Linked DNA regions of Homo sapiens. The protein of the gene in region 4 interacts with the protein of the main gene of each other region in a pairwise test. Each region holds a gene or a part of one and is shown on either strand. Other genes may lie near its edges.

What was found.
Region 1: the proteins of CYB5B (region 4) and CD33 interact in binary tests that used the Homo sapiens proteins (3 or more experiments, as listed by UniProt).
Region 2: the proteins of CYB5B (region 4) and PHACTR3 interact in binary tests that used the Homo sapiens proteins (3 or more experiments, as listed by UniProt).
Region 3: the proteins of CYB5B (region 4) and KCNK5 interact in binary tests that used the Homo sapiens proteins (3 or more experiments, as listed by UniProt).

What each region holds. Positions count from the first base shown.
Region 1 is NC_000019.10:51,235,066-51,240,530, reverse strand, and holds the end of CD33 (myeloid cell surface antigen CD33 isoform 1 precursor), read right to left. Parts: intron 5,375-5,465; coding exon 5,278-5,374; intron 5,014-5,277; coding exon of another isoform or gene 4,937-5,013; coding exon 4,855-4,936; intron 4,709-4,854; coding exon of another isoform or gene 4,700-4,708; exon of another isoform or gene 4,565-4,699; intron 1,014-4,564; coding exon 843-1,013; 3' UTR 515-842; downstream 1-514. UniProt on the Homo sapiens protein: Sialic-acid-binding immunoglobulin-like lectin (Siglec) that plays a role in mediating cell-cell interactions and in maintaining immune cells in a resting state.
Region 2 is NC_000020.11:59,768,517-59,775,544, reverse strand, and holds part of PHACTR3 (phosphatase and actin regulator 3), read right to left. Parts: intron 2,267-7,028; coding exon 2,092-2,266; intron 1,303-2,091; coding exon 1,055-1,302; intron 1-1,054.
Region 3 is NC_000006.12:39,219,474-39,226,501, forward strand, and holds part of KCNK5 (potassium channel subfamily K member 5), read right to left. Parts: intron 1-7,028. UniProt on the Homo sapiens protein: K(+) channel that conducts voltage-dependent outward rectifying currents upon membrane depolarization. Voltage sensing is coupled to K(+) electrochemical gradient in an 'ion flux gating' mode where outward but not inward ion flow opens the gate.
Region 4 is NC_000016.10:69,419,718-69,427,620, reverse strand, and holds the start of CYB5B (cytochrome b5 type B), read right to left. Parts: upstream 3,003-7,903; 5' UTR 2,938-3,002; coding exon 2,764-2,937; intron 1-2,763. UniProt on the Homo sapiens protein: Cytochrome b5 is a membrane-bound hemoprotein functioning as an electron carrier for several membrane-bound oxygenases.

The DNA.
Region 1 (5,465 bases), on a different chromosome or scaffold from region 4:
ACATGGCCATATAATTCATTTTCAGATTGTCTGTGGCTGCTTTGTTGCTACAATGGCGGAATTAAATAGTTGCAATAGAGACCACATTGCTTGCAAAACTGAACATGTTTACTATCTGGCCCTTTGCTAATACTGGTTGACCATCTCTGACTTAGAATGTCACATTGAGAAGCTTCAAATTATTCCTGTGGGTTGGGGATCTAGGGAACTATTTTCACTATGGTCAGCTCTGAGTTTTAGAAAATTCCCCAAATGCTAATATGTGATTTTCCCTGTAGCAGGACATAAAGAAAGCAGAAATCCGAGTAGGGGACAGGTGAGATGAAAAGAGAAGATTCAGGAGTGGAGAGAGATGATGTTGGAGGGTAAGTCAGGGAAGACATATATGGTGGGGTTTTGAGCAGCAAGTGAGATGGACATGTTGCTGATATAGTTCCAGAGATCAAATATCACTAATGACTTCTGTTCAAGGGGGAAGGAACCAGTATGCACCGAACTCTCACTGCACCAGGACTGGTGTTTTCCATGTGTACCTTTATTTAATGCTCACAGCATCCCTATGAGATAGGACTTCTTATACCTACTTCACAGAGAAGAAAATGGAGACATGGAAGGTTAAGGAGCTTGTGTGACATCATACACTTAGCAAATGAAAGAGCACAGATTTGATTCCACGACTCTCTGCTTGCAAAGTCTAAGATGATGTTAATATAGCAGGAAACTCACATAATGTCTATAAACCCATTGCCTGTGGGGTGTTAAATCTCCAAGAATCAGCCTTTGGTCCCCGACCTGTAGAGGATGTGGATCTTCTAGCTGAGCCTGATGCTCTTGTGGGTTCCTCACTGGGTCCTGACCTCTGAGTATTCGGTGGAGGTGTCCTTGGAAGGATTCATCCCATGAAAGTTGAGGGAAGCATAATGCAGCTCCTCATCCATCTCCACAGTAGGGGCGGCACCTGAACAGCTTGAGGTTTCAGTGGGGCCATGTAACTTGGACTTCTTCTGGTGTTTCTTATGGAGAGGAAAGAAGGGGGTTAGAGCAGGGCAGTGAGGAGGGGGACCAGGAGAAGGCAAAGAGGGTCAATGAAGTAAATTTGACTCTGACAGAACATTTATTCACTCTTTCATTCTTTCATCAAATGTTAATTAATTAAGGCTCTACTTATTCATTATCTAACACATGTAGCACGTATTGATTGATTCGCAATTCTCTTGAATACTCACAGAGACTAATGTGGAAAAATTCTGGGCAGCTACACTGACATCATCTTTGGCATCTATTATTTTAATCCATTTTACAGACCAGGAAACTAGGTCTCAGAGAGCTTAGGTAATTTCCAAAGTCACACATCTGTTGACCCTGAACTCGGTCCCAGGTCTCTGGGACCTCCTATGTGCTGGGCACTGGATCCTCAGGAGGGAGCAGAGCAGAGCAGGGGCCCTGTGATTTCCAGTACTGCAGGGGATGAAGACAGAAACAGACTGGTAATTGCAAATTGTGACAGTGTGCAGATGAACAGGAGAGAGTAGAATGATGGAGGTCTAATAAAACCCAGGCTTTTCCTTGTGGAGCTCATGGTGTGGTAGGGGAAGCTATGGGAATGCAGTTAGTTCAAGTGGTGCAAAGCCCTACACAAACAGGGAACATGGTATCATAAGAGACACAGGAGCAGATGCTGGAGAAATGGCAAGTCTACAGGGTACAACCATTTGCTGGTGCAGGCCCATTTCTTGGTTCTAGATTTGGGGCAGTGTTTCTCAAAAGAGTCCTTCAACTCACAGTTTCTGCCTCTTCTCCTCCCATTCTCTCTTGAACTCTCTCTAGTCAAGAGATCTTCCTCCAGCAGAAAAATCAGATCTGCTTTGCTGTCATACCACTTAGCTACATTCAAATAGCCATTTCTCAGATTCCATCTTACCAGACTTACCAGCATTTGAAACAAATGACCAACCTCTCCTCCATGAAGCCCCATCTTCCCTTGGCCACCAACACTACAGCCTGCAATTTCCTGGTCATTGGCTCCTATTCATTCTCAGCTTTCTCACCATTTACACCTCATCTCCCTAACATTAAATGCTGGAGGGTTCCAGGGCTGTGTCTGTGGACCCCTTCTCTTCTTTGTAGATTCATCGATTATTGGATGTTGATAGGGAAGCTCCCAACCTCTGTGTCTCCCACGTGGAGCCCTCTTCTGAGCTCCAGACACTTGCCTGCTACTTGTCATCTCCACATGGATGTCTCAGAGGCACCTCAAACTTACGGTAACCAAAATAATGTTTGATATACACTTGAAAATAGACTTCTCCTTCAAGGATGGCAATTTTAATCATTGGCAATTTGATTTTTTAAGTTTGAATTCTGAGTTAACCACATGAACATCATCATTGGCATCTATAGACATCTATGACATCTATGGGGTCTTCTTGGACATCCATGACATCTATGATATCTGTGGACCCACCTATGACATCTGAGACACTTATCGAGCAGAGCCCGTGAGCTATCTTTGCTCATGCCTTGCATGCACTCCATCACTCCACTTGCAAATACTGTTGACTCCACCTTCAAGATGTATCCGGAACCCAATTTCTCCACATCAGATTCATTATTCTTACTTGGGACTAAGTCTGAGTCAGTCATCTCTTGGCTTGATTATCTGTGTATCTTCTATTCTGGTATCTTCTCTTCTATACTACATACTAGAGTTTCTCACAGAGCAGCCAGAGTGACTCCCACTAAAATGAGTGTCAGTTCATGTCACTCTTCTGCTCTAAACGCATCAATAACTATGATGGACTTAGGATCCTGCAATATTTGCAGCTCCTATGTCTCTTCAACCTCATTTCCTACCTACCATTGTTCAGTCCACACTCCACCCCCAACACGTAACTCTGCCTTATCCACACTGTCCTACTTTGTTTCTCTAAAACATCAGATGTGTTCCGGCCTCAGAGCCATGGTACTTGCTGCTTCCTTGATGATTCTCTACTGCTCATACTGTACTCACTTTCTTTCTGCAGGTGTTTGCCCAAAGGCCATTCTTTGGCCCCCAGGACTGTCCAATCCGTTCTCCCATTTCATTTCCTGCCATAGCACTTATTTCATGCCTATTTCATGTATATTTGCACTGCTTATTTGTTCATTATTTTCATCCCTTTCCCCAATAAATGTTAAGCCCCCGATAGGAGGAATATTTTATATTTGTAAACTGTGTGTTTATAAAAATACAGAATGGCACAAGGACCTAGAGCAATTGGCAAATGGGATTATATAGATATTTCAGAATGAATGGGTGCTGGTTGACCCTGTGTTCAAAAACTTTACTGTGGTGTTCACTTTAGTCAGAGTTAAATAAATTAAAAAAAAAATCAGAGCTTGAAGGATGCACTGGAGTTGGGCAGGTAGCTATTAGGCATATGAGGAGGAGGGGACAGCCCAGCAATGATTCTGAGATGAGAAAGCTTGCCCTGCTTGAGGTGATTGAGTGGCTAATGTTGGGGGAGCATAGCACTGAAGGGGACTCTGGTTTTCCTGCTCCAAATGCCAGACCAAGTTGTTGGAATGCCAATCTTTCAGGAGTGTAGAGAAGCAGTGCATTTCAAACTTGGGAATGATGGGACAATGACCTTTTAGGGAGGTGATGCTAATGTTCTGGAGAGGAGAAATGGGAGGTGAGGCTGCAGCAGAATAAGGAGTAAGAGGGGCTCTCGGCTCAGGAGTGGTTGTGTTAAGCCGTGTTCAGAGGAAGCTCAGACATGCATCGTAGCATACTGGCACAGGAAGAGATGGAGGACTGGGACAGGAGGGGGCCATGTCTCTGGTTGGGTAATGGGGACAAGAGTGCCATCAGCGAGATGGAGAACCCATCAGGAGAAGTATGTTTAGGGGTGTGTCAACCAAGTGTTTCTGATGTTTTGACATCTGGGGCATTACTGACCCTTGAGAGACTGCCTTTCCCAAGGATAGTAGATTTCTAGAGCTAATAAAGGACTTGCATACAAGTGCACCTTTCATGTGCAAACCAGTCAATCTAAAGCCCACACTACCAGCTGGATCCTTTATTGAGCTCTTACACTCCAGACCACAATCCTCCTTAATAAACCCAGGGCCATGTACCAGACAACTAGAGACAACTCCTATACCCCAGAGTCTGCTGAAATTGTTCTAAGTAGCCAATCCTAAACCTGCCTAGCTTGCTTACCCTGTCTTGCCCATTCTTTTCCATGAAAGCCACAGTGAAGGCTCTTGTCCCATTTTCTCCTTGCTCCCTCTGCTTCCTGACTGACCCTGGTGCTTCTCCATATGGCCTTGCATGGTGTGGTGTGCCCTCTCGGGAACGGTGAATAAGAAACTATTTTTTTTTTCTTTTTGGGACAGAGTCTCTCTCTGTCACCCAGGCTGGAGTGCAGTGGTGCTATGTCGGCTCACTACAAGCTCTGCCTCCCGGGTTCATACCATTCTCCTGCCTCAGCCTCCCAAGTAGCTGGGACTACAGGCGCCAGCCACCACATCTGGCTAATTTTTTGTATTTTTAGTAGAGACGGGGTTTCACCATGTTAGCCAGGATAGTCTCAATCTCCTGACCTCGTGATCCGCCCGCCTTGGCCTCCAAAGGTGCTGGGATTGCAGGTGTGAAACACTGTGCCCGGCCAAGAAACTATCTTTTCAATGGCCATCATCTCCTGATCTGTTGGCCTCAACGTACCTGAAAAATATTAAAACCTACACTGTTAAACAGGAGGAAAGACAATAAGCTCAGTTCTGGAAATGCTGAATGGGGCATGACGGTGGGCCACATTGGGAGGAGGTGTCTGCAGGACAGACTGGATGCCAGGATGCCCCATCACTCACCGGGGAGGCTGACCCTGTGGTAGGGTGGGTGTCATTCCTGCCCACTGCTGTCCTGGCTGCTTTCCTCCTGTGGGTCTTCACTCTGATGGGAGACACCAGGGTCTTTGAGCCTGGTTTTCTCAGGCTGTGGGGCCATTGTTATGAGCCTGGAATGAGGGACTTTGGCAGGTAAAGGGTGGGATTAATCCAGGAGCCCTCAAACAAGACTTAGTCACAAGGTCTCCCTCTACCTCCCACTCCTTGGACATCTGAGATCAGGGCCCTGGAATAGACCCACGCCTATCCCAGTGGCCACAGGCTGGATTCTGTACATCATCACACCCCCTGCCCTTTCTCCAGCCCTCACAGCCCCTCCAGGACCCTTCTACACCAGGTCCATCCTCTTCACCTCTGGCCCATGCCTGACCCAGAGAAAATGCTCACATGAAGAAGATGAGGCAGAGACAAAGAGCGAGCAGGGCTGTAACACCAGCTCCTCCAATGGCCCCATGAACCACTCCTGCTCTGGTCTCTTGTTTCCCTGCAGACAAAAAAGATTTGGGGTGAATTCTAATCTAGATAAACAGGTATGTGTATCCTCCTCTCCAGCATGTAGAGAGGGGTGACTTCAC
Region 2 (7,028 bases), on a different chromosome or scaffold from region 4:
GGACCCGGTGGAAAGGCTCCAAAGCAGCAGGAAGCGGGAGGCTATGGAGCCCTGGGCTGCCGGTCTATCCACCCATCACAGTACCCACCGCATGCCTTCAGTACCAGCCAGGGTCAGCACCGACATCTGATGCCCTTTCCTGCTCCCCACAGACACCCAGGGAGACGTGGCCTGAGCTTTGCCCATGCCCGCAACAGTCACCATGAGATGCTTCCAGGAAGAACAGCAACGGACGCTTCCTGATCCTTCCCTTGCAGGCCAAACACCACGGCCGCCCTGGACCTTCCTGGGACTAATCAGAGGGCCCCGCACAGCCAGTACCAGCTGGGAGGGAAACCCCCTCAGCACTTCCTCCTCCTGGCCTGAGCCTCCTTCTCCCTTCATCACAGGGTGGTCTGCAGGCCTCTATCGTCCCGAGCCCCGGAGTCCTCAAGGGTAGGATGGAGCAATTACCTCATGGGAGAACGCACCATGAGGACAAATACGGAGCTGGCTTCCAAGGACCCTGTGAGCATCTGCTCCCAAACAAGCGTATGCTGCCTGTCCCATCCACAGCACTTCTGAGACGGCCATTTGAGATCAATAGAGCAATCTCTCTTCCTCCCTCTCCCCCTGCTTCCATCTCGTCCTGCTTTACTTGTTACAGTTTTTTTTTGTTTTTGTTTTTGCTATAACTTCTGTACACTGAGCATCTGTACACCAACTATATACTGTTCGCCACAGCATCCTCAGGGGTGGCATTCTCTAAGTCACTTGCTTCACCACTTTTATGTTGTTTTTTTTTTTCACATACACATGAAAACTAATATGCAACTCTCAAAACAATTTCACCGGGGTATTTTCTAGTTCCTTGCTCTAAGCCTGGCTGTGCACCCCCACCCCAGCTTGTTTCAGGAGAAGCTCATTTCCAGAGGACACAGCCCCCCTCTTGTTTCTCCCCAGGTGCAGCCCCTCGACCTGTTCCTCCCCCAGGCACGAGCTCTGTCCTCGACCCCCTGGTGACACTAGACCTCTGGCCGAGATCCCCACACTTAATGGGCCATCCTTTCCTCACCAGAAATAATGGAGTCGTTCAGCGCCTCCTCGTCCTGATACAAAAGCAAGTCGTCTTTGAGTTCAGAATTTATGATCAGGTTCTCCTTGTTCTCCTCAGATTCCTTAGCGGCAGTTCGCTTGTTCTCCAATGCCCCGTCAAAGCTCCAAGCCTCCTCCCTCTCCTTGCCCCGCTCCACGCTGGACGTTCTCGACAGACGGACATCCAGCCGCTTCTTTGGAGACCCTTTACTTTCTCTTCCTTGAAAACTAAACCAGAAAGATGGTTCAGGTTATAGGTCACCCCCTTCACCCAGAAACCCAGCACGATTGACTTTGGAGCTTATAATGAATATCACAGAGGCAGCCCCAAAATGCATGTGACCTCTTGGTTTTTATCCTGGACACACCAGAAGGAGCATGAGGATTTGAGTTCAAGGCAAATGGCTGTTTACAACATGCTGTTTTGAAAAGCACAGAACATGCAAGTAATAAAACCTGCCAAAATACATGCAATCAATGTTCAGGGCGAGGACTTCACAAAAACTGAGAAGGACATTTTGTTTGTCTAATATTCCTCCAACCCATACTGTCTCCTATTACCTATTTTACCTCTAATCTTTCACAGTCCATGAGACACATGTGATCCAAAATAAGAGTAAGCTGCAGGCACAGGCTGCCTTACACTCTTGCCCAGTGACAACTATGAAGCCCTCAGTGTCCTGGGACAAAGTGGAACGGCCACTTTTCTCTAAGTCAGTCTCTCCTGCAAAGCTCCCACCCCACCCTGGGTCCTGAGGGGCTCACGCACAGGACTTTGTGGCCAGGTTCCCATAGTGCACATTCACTGTGCACCCCGTCCCAGAATGTGGGAACCAAGATCAGCTATGCAATCTGCAGAGCGAGGTGCAAAATGAAAATGTGACTTCCTTGTTCAGAAAGTGACTGTAGAACGGGACACCCAGCCAAGGCCCTGGGCGTGGCATGAGCTGCACAGCCTGAGGCTGGCCAGGCAGGGATTCTGGCAGCACAGGTCTCCCTCATGGGGCAGGGCCTCACCTGTCCTGGCGGTGCTTCGTGGCCAGCGCCCTGTGCAGCTCCTCAATGACGCGGCTTGGGGGAAGAGGCCGGTGGACCGTGGTGAGATGCGGAGACCCCGTGGGTGTGGAGAGCTGGCCCCGGAGGGAAGGGTCGGCACTCTTCATGCTGGAGGCTTGGAAGAGTGTGGCTTGGCCTGGGGTGTGGGAGGAAGCAGCAAGAACATAGGTCTTCAGGAGCTGGGACCAAGGGTTTTGCTGAGACTGGGGACCATGAGCGGAAAGGACGCTCCCCTGCACCTCCAGGAGGGGCCCCAACTAATGCCAAGATGCTGGACCGGGATCCCTGCTCCCAAAGCTAGAGGCCAGGGTGCATCTCTGTCCAGTTCTGCTCCATCTGTAGGGCAAACCCTGTTAGGGGCCAAGCCTTGCAGACACCAGCACCAGCATCCTCCCTGCAGGGCGCTGGGCTTAGAAAAGCCTCCTTCCTGCTTCTCTGCTATGAATTCAGCTTCCTGAAGCTGCTTCTTGTTCTTGGGAAACCCGGAAGAATCTGTGCAGCCACCCTTCAGCCTGGATGAGCACCATGGTCCGCTCTGCCCTCCCCACAGCATCTGTTCCAGCACCTTGGGCTTGCACTTCCAGCCCCCAGAACAGTAAGGAATAAATTTCTGGGCTCCAACCCTCTCCCTGTATCTCTGCCAGGAGGATCACCCCAGAAGGTGAATTGGATCACTCTCCCATCTTCCTTAGGACATGATTCGAACTCATGGCCCAGTCTCAAGGCCCCTGGGGGTGGCCCCACTCGGCTCCCTAGCTGCATCTCCACCTCACTCTCTTCACTCCAGCATGTGAAGATCTCTCCCGTCTTTGAAGGCACCACACTCCGTCCAACCTGAGTCTTTGCATGGGCTGTTCTTTCTGCCTGAAATGCTTCCCCGCTCCTCTGCTAGAATACCATTTCCTTAGAGAGGCCATGATCAGATCCCTCGTCTCCTGTCCCCTGGGACCTGAGCCTGCCCTGACACTTTTCCTCTTACTTGGAGTGAATCACGCTGCCCAGTCTGTTTCTTGCTCCTGGGCAGGCCTGTGTCCACCTTCCTTCCTACAGTTTCCCCAGGCCTGGCACTTAAAACACGGGCAATAAACACTTGTGTACATGAAATGACTTTGAAGATGATTCTAAACAGGCTTTGCTCATTCAAGTCTAAATGAGTGGGACACCCCCTCCTTCCATCAATGACAGTCTCCTGCATGTGCTCCGGGCCAGCAGGGTGTCAGGTGCCCGGAAGAGCAGAGAGCATGGGCTTTGTCTTCTGCAGATTTGGCCTCTGGTCTTGATCTGCCATTTCCCAGTATGCAAGACTCTGGGCAAGTCACTGAAGCTCTCAAAGGCTTAGCCTACTTGCCTGTAAAATGAGACCATCAGCTCCTTTTCAGGAGCCTAGCAGCTGGCACAGGCCCAGAAGCTCTTAGGTGTTCAGCACAAACTCTCATTCCAAAAGCGTCCTGGCAGGACTGGTGCAAACACCAGATCCCTTTAATCCCACCAGCAAAACAACCAGATCTAAACTACCCCATTCCCTAAAAACCAGAAACAAACTTCCAATACAATCCTGGGATGTGGACAGCATCAATAAAAAGTATTCCTCAAAACCCAAAAGGAAACTGTAAACCTCGTGGAGGACTTTAGTTATTTCGCTTTCTCTACAAGCACCTGCTTGGCCACACAAGGCCAGGCCACAGGGAAACGGGCCAGGCCCTGCCGTCAGCTGGTGGAGACAGACAGAGGCCAGGCAGACAGAAAGAGAGCAGATGATTGTAGAATAGAGAAGGAGACAGAAGGAGAGGGAGAGAAAAGGGCTGGGAGAGAGAGTGGTGGAGGGAGGGGGGCGAGAGGGCACCACGCAGGTGGGCTGAGAGTACTGGGCTGGTCGGGGGGAGGTGGTAGCTGGTTTGGGAGAGGGAGGTCAGGAAAGGCTGCTCTGCAGAGGGAAACTTTGAGCTGAGACCTGAGAAATGACAAGGAGCCAGCCATGCAAGAAGTGGCCAGGCAGGGCAGGGGCTGCAGGGAGACCCATCCCCAGCTTCTGCACACTGCGCTGTCCTCTCCCCACTGGCCTCAGCCTCCCCAGGCTGCTCCTGCTCAGGACAGTGCCCCACTCCTGAGCACACGCAGGTGACACGCAGCATCCCCCAGCCCCTCTGTCTCTAACCATCATTGCCTCTACTTCTCACCCCAGCCCCATGAGGAAGGAATCACTAGCCCTCTTGTACAAATAGGGAAACTGAGGCAGCGTGGTTTGCCTGCTCTCGCTCAGCTTGGTGGAGCTGGGATCCCACCCAGGTCTCTGCCCCACTGTCAATCACAGATGTGACAACCAGCACTGCCCCCACGGCCCCCATAGAGCTTTGCCTGGCTCGCCCCACCCAGCTTGTGCAGGGGACCACTTGTCACCCCCATTTCACAGATGAGGAAGCTGAGGTTCAGAAGCCACCTCAGGGGCAGGCTGCCAGGAAAAGGTGGGGGCTGAGAACAGCACATCGCACCCAGCTCCACTTACACTTGGCAGAGGCTGTGGGACTCCCATCCCGCAGAGTTGAGCGTTACCAACTGGACCAGGTGACAGCAGGGGTAAAGGAGAGGTAAAAGGGAGAGGGGTAAACGCATCTCCAGGGACCAGGCAGGTGAAACCCAGGAATGCAAAGGACCTCCTGCAATTTCTCCATGGGGGCAGGGTGGGGACCACAGCACACAGAGGAGAACCTGCCCACCTTAATGGGCCTGTAGTGACTCAGAGGGTGATCAGAGATGAAGACTTTTCAAGAAAGTCCAGGAATTTGGCCTATGAACCAGGAAGCAAGCCCTCATCAGAGACACCAAATCTGCCGGCACCCTGATCTTGGACTTCCAGCCTCTAGAAGAGTGACGAATAAATTTCTGTGGTTTATAAGTCACTCAGATGAACTAAGACACCTGCAGTCCTGCCTTGGGTGGAGACTCAGTTGGGCCAGGGTCCCTCCTGCAGCAAGGGAAGCCCAGGTAAGGAGACTTTCTTCTTTGCTACCATCTAGTGTTCACATGCTGAAGCACATGAACCTTTTCCCAAAGGAAAAGGAAAAAGAGGAACTGAGAAAATTAAATCAAAGTCACCAAAATGTAGTCTGTGCAGGAAGAAGCCAGGCCAGGACCCATAGCTCGGAACTACCCTCCTCCACCTCCCAGTCTCAATTCAGTCCCTATGGAAACGCATAAGTGTCAGAGTATCCCCTGATGTCCTTGCAACTGAGGGCAGGGCGGAAGCCAGAAGTGTCCGCAGACTGGGGACAGAACGCCAGAATTTAGGGCGTGTGGAGTCAGAATGAAGACCTGTGCCATCTGAGGCTCGACCTTCCCAAGCTTGGGAGAGGCAGGAAACTCTCTGGGTTACCAAGTTATTGAGGGCCAGGAACAAATTATACATTCGCCAGAATAAAATGAGGTGGATGGTGGCTAATTGAATGGACTTTAAATGGTTTTAGGTTTCAATGGAGGAAAAAGGGAGCTATCACAAAGACAATAACAAAATGCAAAGTAGCACAGTTTTGCCTCAAACTTTGTACTGTAATTTATGTGGCCATGTTGCATAAAGACTGAATATTTGGATTCATCTACAGAGATGTAGAAAGATGCAGAAAGCAGACAGACAGGGTTCAGAGCACGCATGCATTCATTCACTCATTCATTCATCCATCCAACCATCATCTGCACTTGCTGAGTGCCTGCTGTATGCCCTGTACTATGCCTGCACTTGGATTTGACAGTGAACACAGACGTGTGGCCGTCTCTCAGGGACTACTGTCTGGGGGGCAGGTGGTTAGAGAGAGGCAAACCATCCAACAGACAAGGCGTGTATGGCTCCTTGGGCAGCCCAAAGCAACAGAACAACTCTCACAGTTTTGGAGACCAGAAGTCTGAAATCAAGATGCTGGCAGCGTTGGTTCCTTCTGAGGCTGTGAGGGAGATGCCGTCCCAGGCCTCTCCCCCGGAAAATTCTTGGCGTTCTGTGGATGCATCAGTCCCATCCCTGTGTGTCCTGTCCTGCCTGTCACATGGACACTGTCATTGGATTCAGGGCCTAACCGAATCCAGCATGAGCTCAGCTTGATCTTTAACTTAATGGCAGTTGAGAGACCCTTATTCCAAACAAGGTCATGTTCTGAGGTTCCAGGTGGATGGGAATTTTGGGGTGACACCATTCAACCCACTAAACAAGGTGGGGCAATGTGGTAAATGCTGGAAGATGGGGCGCATGGTGCTATGAGGTCAAGGGTCAGGGCTGGCTCCCCTGGAGGAGAAACAGCTTGAGCTGTGGTCCCAAGCATGCAAAGGTACTGACCAGGCAAAGCAGGAAGGGAGAATGTTCTGTCAGGGAGAACAGCTGGGGCCAAGTCTCAGGGTGGTGGGGTGGCGGGGGCGCCCCCTCACTCATCCCTCCACCCACCCAGCAGCACATTCTCCCACAAACCAATACTACTTGGGGAACCACAGGGCACCACAGCCCCACATCTAACCCATCCAGGACATCTGCAGTCCCAGCTAAAGAGGCCCCCTGTGGGGTGCATCTCACCTCCTCCGTTTCTGTGGTATCTGGCTGAGAATCATCAGTTAGACTGGAATACTTAATTCGTGTTAGGTGTACAAGGAAAATGCCCCACTGAAAGCATTTTCCACCCAAGAGTCCCCTCCAGATTGAACATTCACCCCATAAGGGGCAGTAAGGTCCCCAGAAAAGAGCCAAGGGCTGGGACCCAGCCCTCCCGAGCTCATGCCCGGGCTCTCCTTGTCTCAGCAGCTGACACCTCTTCCAAAAGGTGGCAGTTCCCTCTTTCATGAAAACTGGGAAGAAGCACAATGAGGATTAGGTGAGATCGCAGAGGGGAGGGCACCAGCCCCTGGCCACACGTGTGGTAGCAACA
Region 3 (7,028 bases), on a different chromosome or scaffold from region 4:
ACTTGAATACCTGTCCTTAACCAGGTTCCACTCCAGCCTGGGCAACAGAGTGAGACTCTGTTTCAAAAAATAATAATAATAAAAATAAAATAATGGCACCCCTACCCCTTCCATGACTTAGAGCCTGTGAGACCAAGGACCAGAGTCTGGGCCTGGGGCACCTGGCTTCATTCACTCTGCTGTGACCTTGCAAGAGGCTTGGCTGCACTGACTAGACTTCCAACCAAAAGGGCCACACAGCTTTTGGCATCCCCCTGAGCTGAGCACAGTGCTGGACAGACGGACACAACAAACTGAGCAAGACTGAAATCCACACACTCACTGAGCATCCTGAGAGCTAGGCCTGGCAACACAGGCCCAGGGCTGGGAAGACATGGCCACTGCCCACGAAGGTTGCAAATGGTCTAGCTGGACCTAACTAGCACTCCAAGCCTTTCTGAATGAATGGACGAGTCCAGAGAGGGAAAATATGGCCAGGGGCACACAGCATAAACCGGAGTACAGGTAAAAGTAGAACACAGGTTAGAATCAGTTTTCTGCTACACAGTAGTTCAGATGAGGGTTCCTCATCCCTAGCCCCAAGCACAGAAGCACTCAGACAAATGGAAGGGGGCTCTGCTGTGTCCTCCCCACCCAGTGTGGCCAACAAGGCCCCTGGCAGCCCTGCAGGACTGGAGACTACACCGTTGAACAAAGGGGGTCCTGCTACCAGCTGCACAGCTTCTCTCCCAGACTCAGGGGGCAAGCATCCCCGCTCATAGCAGGGGCCCAGCTAAGCAGCTGCAGCCAGATTACAGTGGGGCACGGGAGGTGACAACAGCCAGAAGTACACAGCCCTGCCTAAATATTTCAGCAGGAAACCCAAATATTTAGATGGAGGAGAGGAAAAAGAATGCACATTTCAAAGCCAATCAAAGATGAGAGGGGAGGTGGGTGGTGTCTGCCTCGAGTGAGGGCCCAGCTCTGATCCCAGACCCTGGGTAACCATCATCCCAGGAGAATACCCATGAGACCATCTGGACGCAGGAATTCTCCAGAAAATTTTTAACCAAGGCCTGGGACAAGCCAGGACTGAGCAGAGCCCTGCTAGAAGAGAGAAAGAAGGAAACCGTCCCTATTTTTAGGTGTTGACCATCAACTGTTTTAGGTGGTTAATTTGCAGGACACAGAAAACAGTGGGTGACTGACTCCAGTAGGAGAAACTTGATGGGTTTTATCATGTTCCCTTGTCCCCATCTCCAGATTAGGAGCTCACTGCATGATGGGTCCTGCAGGGTGGTGTCAGGGACAGAGTACACAGAGGAACTGGGTACAGGAACAGCAGTTAATACGTAGCCAGTCACCTGTTACATGTGCCAAACACACTAACATGTTAACATAGACCCTATGGGCATGACGGACATACCGTACTATTATCCCATTTTGCAGATGAGATGACTAGCTCAATGAAGTCACACAGCTCAGTATCCTGAACTCTTAGCCCCATGCACCCTAAGACTCTGAGGACACCACATATGCCCTGCACTTTCTCGCCTCTATGCTTTGCTCCCTGCTTTGCCCCACCTTCAAGGTAGCCTCACATAGAAGAGAATAGTTCACAGTGTGAGCTCTGGGTTCAAAACCTCATCCTTCCACTTCCTAGCTACATAGCCTCAGACAAGTTATTCAATCTCTATGGTCCATTCTGTTGCTTCTACTGTGAGGTCGAGCTGATCACAGAATTTACTGCAGAGGGTGGCTGCCATGATTCAGTGAGATGATGCACATCAGTGGCTCCCACAGCCTGTGGCCCCCACAGCCTGTGGCCAAGTAAGTGCTTGTAACTATTGGTTGCCCAAGCCTGTCACTCCCAGCCCCCGACTCCACCTCCACTTATGGACAAGACCGAAGCTTCCAAGTCAACAAGAGGGATTCAATCTCAGTCCTCTATCCAACAGTGTAGACCTAGGCAAGTCACCTGGCCTCTGGTTTCCTGTCCAATGGGAATAGCAATACCTAGCCCACAAAACTGGTTCAAGGAGACACAGGTAACATCCCAGCCCAATGTCTGGCACCTGGTAGGCACTCCACAGAATGCTCACAGGGCTACTGCCCATGCCACTCACCCTCCAAGCCTGCCTTCTTCTAAGCGCAGAAGTAAAAATTCATCTCTCGCCCTGGTGCACACCTGGAGTCCCCAGGTGCACTTACCAACATCAATCTGGTAGCAGCTCCTTACTATTCTTCCTCCAGGTTAGGGGCCCCCTGAGGGCAGGGGCTGTGTTTTGTTTGGAGCCAGGTCTTCCACAGGCCAAGGAGTTTGGCTACAGGCCTCAGAAAACAGAAAATGAATCCCCCCAGCCCCTTCAACATTTGCCCATCTCTCCAGCCTCTTCCATCTACAACCCACCACTGAGCACTTTGGACTGTATTTCCTCTCATTTCACCACTGCGGCCCAATTATCTTTCCTCAGCTGCACTGATCTCCAGAGGGTTAAAGACTCTCCAATATCTGAGGTTTCATCAAGCACAGAAAGGATAGCCAGTAGGGAGGGCCCGTTCTGTGTTTCCAACTCCACTGTATCCAGGTCTCTGAGGTTCAGAGATTGGGATAACTGCTCACCAGAAGCCTAGAGGCCTTAGGCAGCTGAACAGAGCTACAACTGGAGCACACCACCCCCACTTCTACATAAAGGGATAGCGAAGATGCAATCTGGGAAGGTCACCAAACGGGAGACGGAATGTCTTTGGCTGGGCCAGGGACCCAGACCTGGACCTAAGGGGCTCGTAGTAGGAAAAGAACTAGAGTGTGAAGGTCAGTGGGTTTTTCTGGGGGCTGTAGGCAATATGAGCTTTCTGGGAAAACCCACACTACATCACATCAGCAGGAGAAAGGAAGGAGGGGGTGTCCTTATCAGAACACCCACAGAGTGAAGGGATCAGCCCACAGAAATGTCGTTATTTTAGAGTAGAATGTTCCACTTCTTTTAAGCTGTAAATGGCTGTGGAGGAAACTTTCTGAAATGTTGTTCCCTCCCCTACTTGAAAATTGCAAAAATTTGATGGAGTTCAAATTCCTTGGCAACCCAGAAGAGCTTAGTCATGTGACTCTCACCTCCCTGGCCTGTGGCTACAGCCTGTTGGGTCCATCCTGCAGAACACCTCCCCAAGGGCTATGGGCAAGAGACAGCCACCATCCCCATCCCTTTTCTAGTTCTTTAGAAGTTTGGTTGATACACACCCAGAAGTAGGAGCACTGCATCACTCAGTAGTTCTATTTTTAATTGAGGAAACTCCATACTATTTTTCACAGTGGTTGTACCACTGTACAAAGCAAAAGAAATACTATATGACTCCACTTAGGAGACATCTAAAGTAGTTAAGTTCACAGAAACAGAAAGGAGAATGGTGGTTCCCAGGGGCTGGGTAGAGAGGGAGAAGAATTGTTGTTGAAGGGGGTATAATTTCAGTTTTGCAAAATGAAAAAGCTCTGGAGATCTGTTTCATAATGGTAAATATACTTAACACTACTGAGCTGGGCTTTTAAACGTGGCTAAAATGGTAAATTATATGTTTCTGTGTTTTTTGCGTTTAAAAAATTCAGTTGACGTTCTCTCTGTTCTAGGAAGACCTTCCTGATTCTTTGTAATACCAATTAGATTCCCACCACACCTGTGCAGGGACCGCTCCATTGCAGCATAGGAATATCTGGGCATAGCAGAAATGGCAGCTAACACTTAGTGAGCATTTACGATGTGCCATACACTATTCTAAGCAAACTATGGTGTGGCTTCAGAGGCCACTCCCACAACCATCAGACATACTGCTTGGTTGGTGATTCCTTCAGCAACACCACCAAGGCCCCGCAGTGGCAGCTGGACAAAGATCCCTACTGAGGGCAGCACATCCTCTCTCTATGTACAGCCATACTTGGGAAGAACTGAACAGGCAAGGGTTCCTCTGCGTTATTCCAGAGGTCCCTGGGGACTCAATGAAATCTCAAAGAGATTCGCTTCCATCTTCTCCACTCCCTACAAGGAATATTGGAAGGAGGCAAACCTATTTCATGTGCTTTCCTATGGTCTCCTACCTCACTTCTCTGTACCACCCCAGTTCTGGCCAACTGGTTCTTGCAGCACCATGCAAATACAGCATCCCAATTTGGACAAAGACTGTCTTGGAGGCTCCACTCAGGGGCCTGGCTCCTCTGCTCCCCAAAACCTTGCACTTCTCTCCCTCCTCCCACCACCACCAACCACACACACAGTTCAGAGGCTGAGCCCAATCTGCCAGCAAACAGCCAAGTTCAAGATGAAAGCCTTTGGCCCGAGGTCAGGGCCAGCCAAGCACAGCATCCAAAACCGGGGGATTTTGTTTCTTCTAAACGCCAGACTATAAATAGGGCAAAACCCCAGGAAAATATTTAAAAGCAACAATCATCACCTCCTTTGCATCCCCCACCCCCACTGGAAACTTTCAACACTTGCTAATTTCTACCCTCAATAATTCTCTATTACTGTGCCATCTGTAATCATCCTAAGGGTTCTAGTCAAACGCTCAAAGCAATGTAATAAACATTTACTTTCACTGTTAAAAAACTCTAACCAGAGCAGTTAACTAAGGCAGACTAAGGCTTTTTTTTTTTTTTGGCTACCCTCAACTTTTGAGTGGAACATAAATAAGAAACAAGCCATTAGGAAGGGACCTCTTCAATTTCCTCTCAAAAAACCAGCTTATCCACTTTCCACTTCTGCAGTCCTAGCCAGTAAGAACTCAAGCTCGGACCCAAGGCTGTGGAGGCCTCCAAGATCCTCCATAACCAAAAGAGCTATTGTGTTCCTTTTACTTACAAAGGCGGTTAAGTGGACCAGTGCATTTCACAATTTCCAACAAGGCCTGAGACAAAGAGGGTGTTTATATTAACCCTCAACTTTCCAAAAAATTCAATGTACCCCATTCTAAGCATTTTGGCCACATGTAATTTTGTCATATATTTCATGGTTTTATTTTTCAAATCTGGGGAGCAGGATTGGTGTTAAAAGAGTGCCAGAACCTCAAAATTGGAACTAGCCTTACTACTTTGGACTGGAGTGTGTATAGACCAGTCCAAAGGGTCCAGAAAATGAAAGGAGGTACATATGGAAAACCTTAGAACACAAGAAAGCACTTTGGAGCTTAGGAAGGAAGGAGGCCAGTGGGATCCAAGAGGCTTCCGGGAACAGGTCAGCTATATGAGCAGTCAAGCAAAACCTGGACTTTGGTCTGGGATGCTAGACAGAGGGCAGGACCTAGGGCAACCCTGCTCCACCCTCAGGAGACAAGGGACTCTCTAGAGCCACAGCAAGAAACCTGCAGTCTGCCTTCCCCAGGCTAGGAGAAAGGGCCACTCTCCATCTTCTGTTAGGAGTCTCTTCTCCCTTCCTTTACCAGTTAGGTTTTTTTTTTTCTTTAATCTTTTTTTTCTTTTTTTGAGACAAGCTCTTGCTCTGTTGCCCAGGCTGGAGTGCAGTGGCGCAATCCAGGCTAACTGCAGCTTTGACCTCCCAGGTTCCCAGCTGTTCTTTCTAATCCAAGACCCCACTCTGGCTTGAGGTCATCTCCTGAGAGCCCTCCCTGACCCCTCAGGCTGGACCAGACCCTCGTTAAGCGACCTCCTGAAAACCTCTTCTGTAGCCCACACCCACTGTCTTGTTCCCAGTGGGTTTATGTATCCTTTTCTCCAGCAGCTCGGAGTGTAGCCTAATTCTTTGTATCCTGAGAGTCTTGCCCAGTGTCTGGCACATGGTGGATACTTAATAAATGCTTGCTAATTTCCATGTACTTTGAAACATGAAACTTAGATGTGAAAACTGACTCCGCTCTATGTGATCCCAGACAAGTTACACTGGCTTTTCCCCTAATTTTCCTCATTTATGAGGTGGCCTGCAAGATTAAATTAAAATAAGAATGTATATAAAGTGCTTATTCAAAGTGGTCTGGTGCACGGTGGGCTCTCAAATCCTTCCTGTTTCTGATCACTGCCCACCAGAGGCAGAAGGTTGAGAAGGGCTGTCCTTCCTCCCCTTCAATCACACCCCCACTGTTTTTGGTGGGACAGGGGTTGGGGACTTCCAAAATGAGAAGCGCAGAGGGGTGGACTGATGTATTACTTCAGTAACAGAGGTGCTGGGTCAGCCAGGCAACAACACAGGAGACGCCTGTATGCCATTACCTGTGCTAGGGGAAATAGAAAATAGAATTTTCCAGCAGATCAGGGTCCAGCTGAACCAATTTCCTAAGCTCAGTTACAGAGCAACAATCTTCACAGGCCCAAGAGGGAGGTGCAAGCTCCTGGGGCAGACTGCCTGGTCATTGCCCCTCCCCGTCCCGCCCCATAGGCTGTGCCTCCTGTGGTGTCCCTGTGGCCATTCTATCTTCTCTGGGCTTCAGCTTGCTTACTTGAATACATACTGTAAAGAGTACCTGAAATAAGGCAGGTAGGTAAAGCTGCCTTCCTCAATAAATGCTAAGGTCAGGAGACCTGTTCACTTTTTATAGACATCTTGCCTAATGTTTCTACTCTATTGGAGCCTCACCAAACACTCATTTTGCAGATGAGGAAAGGAAGGCAAAGTTAAGTTACATGGCTTGATGGGTAAATGGCCGAGCCAGATGGCAAAACCAGCCTGTGCCCTCTCTCATAAAATGAGGATAATAGCACCCACAATGCCCAACACAGAGTAGGTGTGCTGTAAATGTTAACTTCCCTTGTGTGAGTCTGCAATTTAGGAAGAGGTTGGGAGAATGAGTCACCAAAGATCTTGCTTGAGAGCAAGGGTTCAAGATGGTTCTGAAGACAGGAAAGAGGACGATCACGTGGTCCCAGGCTGGCGGGTCACTGAGCACTTGAAAGTCAGCCTGCACCTCACTTCAACCACAGCGGAGGGAAGGAAGTATCTGACAATTCGGGGGGTATTTCTAAAGAAAGTTGACTTAACTCCCTTTCTCACACATTTGAAAGAGCACACACAACTTTCAGGGTAAGAGAAACCCCAACTCAGACTGCACCC
Region 4 (7,903 bases):
CACTTGACCCCAGGAGACTGAGGCTGCAGTGAGCTGCACTCCAGCCTGGGTGAAAGTAAGACCTTGTCTCAAAAAACAAAACAAAAAAAACAAAACTGCAGGTAAAGAGCTGCAGCTCAAGCTCCAAGAGAAACCTTGGCACATTAGTGATGTCTCTGGCTATATCAGCATGTGGTTGAAACAGGTTAGTTACTTCTGGAATCTTCACAGAGGAAAAAAAAAAAGAAAGAAACAGGTTAGCAACTATTACTTGAGACTGAATTAATGCTCTCTGTAAGGGCTGAGTGTTCCCTCCAAGCTCACCATCTATTCTGAATCAATCAAGAAAAAAAATGGAGGGAAATAAAACCACAAATGAAAAACATGATTTTTTTTTTCTTTTTTTGAGATGGAGTCTCACTCTGTCACCCAGGCTGGAGTGCAGCAGCACCATCTCACCTCACTGCAGCCTCCACCTCCCAGGTTTAAGCGATTCTCCTACCTTAGCCTCCCAAGTAGCTGAGATCACAGGTGCCACCAAGCCTGGCTTATTTTTGTATTTTTAGTAGAGACGAGGTTTCGCCGTGTTGGCCAGACTGGTCTCGAACTCCTGAACTCAGGTGATCTGCCCGCCTGTGCCTCCAAAAGTGCTGGGATTGCAGGCATGAGTCACTGCGCCCAGCCAAAAAACTTGATTTTCTACCCATTATGAACCATGCTTTAGCATGAAACTTACTATGAAGCAAATACCAGAAGTCATAGCTAAGGCTAGAATTTTGAAGTAATGCTATGCAGACAAGAGAAATCAAGGGATCTGTCAAATCTGCTACTAATTGATTGTATGACCAGGATCTTTCTGAACCTGTTACTTGTACCTCTGTTAAAAAAAAAAAATCACTACTATCCAAGTCACCCTCCACTAGCTTTTTTTTTTTTTTTTTTGGAGTCTCGCTCTGTCGCCCAGGCTGGAGTGCAGTGGTGCAATCATGGCTCACTGCAATCTCCGCCTCCCAGGTTCAAGTGATTCTCCTGCCTCAGCCTCCTGAGTAGCTGGGATTACAGGCGCCCACCACCAGGCCCAGCTAATTTTTGTATTTTTAGTAGAGTCGGGGTTTCACCATGTTGGTCAGGCTGGTCTGGAACTCTTGATCTCGTGATCCGCCCGCCTCAGCCTCCCAAAGTGCTGGGATTACAGGCGTGAGCCACCACACCTGGCCGGGAAAGTACTTTTTTTTTTTTTTTTGAGATGGAATCTCGCTGGGTCCCCCAGGCTGGACTGCAGTGGCGCAATCTAGGCTCACTGCAAGTGCCACCTCCCGGGTTCACGCCATTCTCCTGCCTCAGCCTCACGAGCAGCTGGGACTACAGGCGCCCACCATCACGCCTGGCTAATTTTTTGTATTTTTAGTAGAGATGGGGTTTCGCCGTGTTAGCCAGGACGGTCTCGATCTCCTGACGTCGTGATCCGCCCGTCTCGGCCTCTCAAAGTGCTGGGATTACAGGCGTGAGCCACCGCGCCCGACCGGAAAGCACTTTTAAAAGCATAAAATGCCATACACCATACAAATGCAAGAAGTTAGTAAATTCTGAGTTTGTTAAATTATTGTTCACTATTAAGATTTATTAAAAATAATGTTCTTTGGGGGAAACTTTTAAATTTTAAAAGTTTTTAGAATTAAAAGTCAGGATGCAGAGATTTCTCTTTTAGGCCCCAAATTAATCGAAAAAATATTTCACTAGTATATTTGCTTCAGAGAAATAGAAGTGAACTTTCACAAGTCATTAATCTATTGCTCAAAATAAAATGATCACACACAAACCGAAAATCAAAGCTTCAAACATACACACACCGAAAATCAAAGCTTCAAACCAATCTTTAGCGGCTGCATATCACTAGTTGCCTGGGGTTGGGAGAGAATGACTGCAAAGGGAAAGGAAGCTTTTTAGAATGATGGAAATGGTTTATGTCTTAACATGGATGAATACATTTTTCAAAACTCATCAAAATGTACATTTTAGATAGGCACAATTTACGTATGTACATTACACCTCAATAAAGTTTTAAATATTTAGAAGTCTATCCTGTTTCCTTAAAAAAAAAATTAGTTGCACCATGGTCTCAAAAATAATTTTTAAAATGAGATGTAATGCAACAGACTTGAAGATTAAATAAAACAGTCTTGAATATTTAAGAAAAATGACAAAACATGAGTCAAAAACAAAAAAAAAGGGTTGATTTATGAGTTTCTGGCCTCAAGGTCAACTCAGATTAGGGGGAAAAAAAAACAGTGGAGGCATAATCAAGATGGGGAAGCGTGTGGAGAGAAATCTCAGCTTCTACTCTAGAAGACGAAAACCAAAACCGGTATTACTTCAGAAGGCACACTGGAAAAGCACAGATGTGGGTGCACTTCAGACCTAGGTTCAACGGATCTAAGCTGCTAACTCTATGGCCCTGAGAGTCCTCAACCTGTGAGCCTCAGTTTCCCTTTCTGTAAAATAAAGATAATGATGGCTTAGAGTTTAGCTGAGCACACAGCAAATGCTCGACACATAAGTAATACATGATATTACATAAGGCACCAGAACTCGGAGCTGACTGGAAATGCATGCAAACTAAAGCCCTCCCCCAATCCCACCCCAGTTTCCCTCTGAGGGTCGTGATCCCTTTCTTACGCCTTATCGCCCCCAGCCAAGCCTCCCTTCCTTCCCACATACACTCCACACAGCCTTTTCACCCCTCGCCCCAGCAGCTTCAGAGGCCTCCCACCTCCCAGGCCCCACCTCGTTGAGGAAGCGGGTGACATCGTAGACTCGCCCATGGATCACAAGCCACAGTTCCTTCAAGGAGTTGCGCTTTGCCACCTCCTCCAACCGGTAATAGGTGACTGAGGTCTCGACTTCCTGCCCTTTCCCATCGCTGCCGCTAGCTTCCGCAGTCGCCATTGAACCGGACATACTGCCTCTCCACCGCTAACTGAGATTCCGCGACTACTTTCCTTGAGAGCCCGCGCTCAGCCTTCCTCGGCTTCCGTAACCAGGGCCCATAAGGCCTTGAGACGGTTCCTAGCAACAGCCAATCACACTTCCGAATAGTTCCTGGTTCGTTTTCTTTTCACCAATGAAGGGAGTGGCTCAGTTCGAAATCCCGCCCACTCCTCGCCCGATCCTCCAGATGAAAGTCTGGTTCGAGGTCCAACTAACCAATTAGGGTCGTTCAGCCCCCTCCAACCTCGCCAATCAGATACCGCGATTTTTGGACTGGCGCCCAAAAGAGGCGTGCTGACAGGTGTCACTTCAGGAGAGGTACCACTTCTCTCAGCCTGTGGGCCTTTAGGGTCTCCAGTGTTCTGCTTCCCTTCCCATCGCTGTGGCTTTCTCCTGAGTCTCAGAAAGTTCCTATCCCCTACACTACCGGCGCAGCCTGTATCCCAACCCTGATTTTACATCTTTGCTGCCTCCAGGTCGTGATCTGGCCAATCCCGTCTCTCCTCAATTTCCCCATCAGTAAAATGGGCTTGATAAAGCACTCTCTTACAGAGGGGTTTGCCTTTTTTTTTTTTTTTTTTTTTTTTGAGACAAGTTCTCGCTCTGTCTCCTAGGCCAGAGTGCAGTGGCACGATCTCGGCTTACTGCAAACTCCGCCTCCCAGGTTCAAGCGATTCTCCTACCTCAGCCTCTCGACTAGCTGGAACTACAGGCATGCGCCACCACGCCCGGCTAATTTTTGTATTTTTAGTAGAGAGTAGGTTTCACCATGTTGGCCAGGCTGGTCTCGAACTCCTGACCTCAGGTGATCCGCCTGCGTAGGCCTCCCAAAGTGCTGGGATTACAGGCGTGAGCCACCGCGCCTGGCCCGGTTTGCCTATTTTAATGAGAGTGCCTGTAAAGCGCTTGGCGCATAGTAATCGCTAAACATGGCAGTCGATTAGAAAGGCAATTGCTGTCCCGGACAGCAATTGGGGGTAGAATGTGGAGTATCCTATGTTTCTACCATCATTCAGAATCCGATTTTCAAACGAATTCTGTGATGATCAGGATCAATCGGCACTATTTTAGTCTCTACGTGATCTAAAATAGAATTGAACTCAACTGCTCTCCGCTAGAGGTCCCAGCACTTTGGAATTCCAAGTTTGGTTAAGGTACAGTGTTGTGCGCCACTTTTTAACTGCCATTACAACTGACAGATTGCTCTTCCTATGATGTCGTCGTTTTCATCCTGTCACTCTCGCAGTCTACCATTCAGGGCTCTCCACAATCCATTCGCAACCTCTTTCACTAACGTATAATATTTTCCACCATTCCCTTTATAAGCCTGTTGCACCCGCCCCGACTCTGAAACCTGCTGGTTTAAAACCACATCCGTGGTCATCCCAGGTCCACCAAGTTAATTTTAGATCACTTAGAGACTAAAATAGTGCAGATTGATCCTGATCATCACAGAATTCATTTGAAAATCGGATTCTGAATGGTGGTAGAAACATGGGATACTCCACATTCTACCCTCAATTGCTGTCCCAAGGACTCCTCTTCCTTTCAATGCCTACCGGCTTTTCAAGTTCCTCTTCAGTTTCTTCTATTTTCAAACTTCTCCTACCGTTTTGAGCTCCAGTGCTTCCATCCCTTTGTAGTACCTAAGAAAGCATATTACTATTTTGGGAAGCCTGCTACGTCTGTAAATTTTAACTTTACGTATTTTACCTCCCTAGTTAGACTGACACTATGAGAGCAATCTCACAAGATTCTTAGGATCCTCCACAAACTCTAGATTCAAATATTTACATTTATTCCAGACATTTACTATTTACTGTTACAAGTCTTATGATAGGCATTGGGAGTAGAGAGATAACATAAGAAACAAAATCTCTGAAAGAAATAAAAACATTTACAGGCTGAATGTGGTGGCTCAAGCCCCGTAATTCCAGCACTTTGGGAGGCCGAGGTGGACAGATCACTTGAGCCCAGGAGTTCAAGACCAGGCTGGGCAACATAGTGAGGCTCTTGTCTCTTCAAAAAATACAAAAATTATCTACGCATGGTGGCACACAACTGTAATCCCAGATATTTGAGAGGCTGAGATCTGGGGATGGCTTGAGCCTGGGAAGTCGAGGCTGCAGTGATGTATGATCGCACCACTGTGCTCCAGCCTGGATGACAGAGCGAAACCCTGTTTCAAAAAAATAAAAATAAATAAATAAAAATAAAAAATAAAAAAATTACAAATTCTAGCACTTAAGTGATATATACCTGTAACATTATATTTGAAAATGTTTTTAGAATTTCAAATAAGTAAGTTACAAGAATAATACAATGAATGACCATATACTTTTAGCTTAGGTTTACCAACTGTTAATATTTTTCAATATTTGATTTTTTCCATATTATTTTGATCATTGTTGTTAATAATGCTGAACTATTTCAGATATCACCACCCTTTACAGCCAAATAATTCTACATGTATCTTCTAAAAATAAGAACATATTGTCACGTAACTGCAGTATGAATTTCAAATTCAGAGAATTTAACATTCACACAAAATTATTATCTAACATACTCTCCATATTATTTTCCATTATTGCATTCATGTCCTTTGTGAAATTTTAGTGTGCCTGTATGACCCAGGATCCAGTTCAGGATCATGTATTGCACTTAGCTAAGTCTCTTGAGTCCCCTTTAATCTAGAACATTTCCTTAACTTTGCTTTTGCTTTCATGACATTGACATTTTTAAATAGTATAGCCTCAAATTGAATTTTACACTGAAAAATTATTGTGACCTAAATGTTTTGGTTATAAATTTATATTTACAATTGATAGCACATGTTAGCCAGAAAGTCTGGCTTGGAATACCTGTCCCTGCCACTCACAAACTTGGTGACCTTGGGCAGGTTTCTTAGCCTCTTTTTTTCCATGTGGATACCCACTTGTTCCTGCACCATTTGATGAAAACACAATTCCCCCTTGAATTGTTTTCCTGTATCTGTCGAAAATTGATTGATCATATAAGTGTGGTTCTCCTTCTGAAATTTCTACTCTGTTCCGATGACTTATTTGTTTATCCTTGTGCCAATTCCACAGTCTTGATTATTGTAAGGCACTAAATCAGGTAATATAAGTCTTATAGCTTTGCTCTTAACTTTTGAAAATTATTTTTGCTATTCTAGATCCTTTGTATTTCCACATACATTTTTTTTTTTCACTCTCATCACCCAGACTGGATGGAGTGCAATGGCACAATCTCAGCTCACTGCAACCTACACCTCCCGGGTTCAGAGTAGCTGGGATTACAGGCCCCCACCACCACACTTGGCTAATTTTCATATTTTTAGTAGAGAGGGGGTTTCACCATGTTGGCCAGGCTGGTCTCAAACTCCGGACCTCAGGTGATCCGCCCACCTCGGCCTCCCAAAGTGCTGGGATTACAGGCATGAGCCACCATGCCCGGCCCCACACACAATTTAAAATCAGCTTGTTGACCAAGTGATCAAATTAAAACATCTCCATAATAAATCATGTTGACAGCATGTACCCCCGGTGTGATGTGATGAAAAGGGCATGTTGCCACTGTGGCATTCTTCCACAAAATCCATAACCATAGTCCAAGCATGGGAAAAACATCAGGTAAACCCAAACTGAGGGACATTCTACATAATGCCTGACCAGTACTCCTCAAAACTGACAAGCTCATAAAAAAAAAAAAAAAAAAAGGAAAGATTGAGAAATTGTCACAGACTCAAGTAAACTAAGGAGACATGACAATTAAACGCAGTATAGTATCCTGGACTGGATCCTAGAACAGAAAAAGGGCACTGGGGAAGAATTAGTGAAATCCAAATAAAACAGTAAGGTGCCAGTGTTGATTTCTTACTTTTGACAAACATATTATGGTAATGTAAAATGCTATCTTTATGGAAAATTGAGTGAGTATACAGAAACTCATTGTATTATTTTTGCAACTTTTCTGTAAATCTAAAATTATTACAAAAAAAGTTATTATTTTTTGCTGGGCACTGTGGCTCATTCCTGTAATCCCAGCACTTTGGAGGCTGAGGCACAAGGATTGCTTGAGCTCAGGAGTTCAAGACCAACCTCGACAACATAGCAAGACCTCATCTCTTTTTTTTTGAGACGAGTCTCACTCTGTCACCCAGGCTGGAGTGCAGTGGCATGATCTAGGCTCAGTACAACCTCCGCCTCCCGGGTTCAAGCAATTCTCCTGACTCAGCCTCCTGAGTAGCTGGGATTACAGGTGCCCACGACCATGCCCAGCTAATTTCTTTGTATTTTTAGTAGAGACAGGGTTTCACCATGTTGGCCAGGCTGGTCTTGGACTCCTGACCTCAGGAGATCCGCCTACCTCGGCCTTCCAAAATGCTGAGATTACAAGCGTGAGCCACTGTGCCTGGCCTGCAAGACCTCATCTCTTTAAAAAAATGTAAAAATTAGCTGGGCATGGTGGTGGGCACCTATAGTCTCAGCTGCCTGGGAGGCTGAGGCAGGAGGATTGCTTGAACCCAGGAGTTGGAGGCTACAGTGAGCTATGATTGTGCCACTGCACTGCAGCCCGGGTGGCAGAGTGAGACCCTGTTTCTAGAAGAAAAAAAAAAAAATCAGCTTCTTAATTTTACAAAAGTGCTTATAGATGAATTTACAGAAAAAAGACACCTTAAAAACCTTACATTTCATGAACCATTTACTTCAGTTTAATTTGTAGTTTTCAATGTAGACATCTTTAGCATCTTTTATTAAATTTATTTCTAAATGTTTCGTTTTTTAATGCCCCTATAAATGAAATTATTTCATTTTCCAATTGTTTGCTGCCAGTCTAGATAAATATAATTGATTTTGTACATTGACTTACTATCTTATACCTTGCCAAATTCACTTATAGTTCCTGTAATTATTTTATGGATTTCTTAGAATTA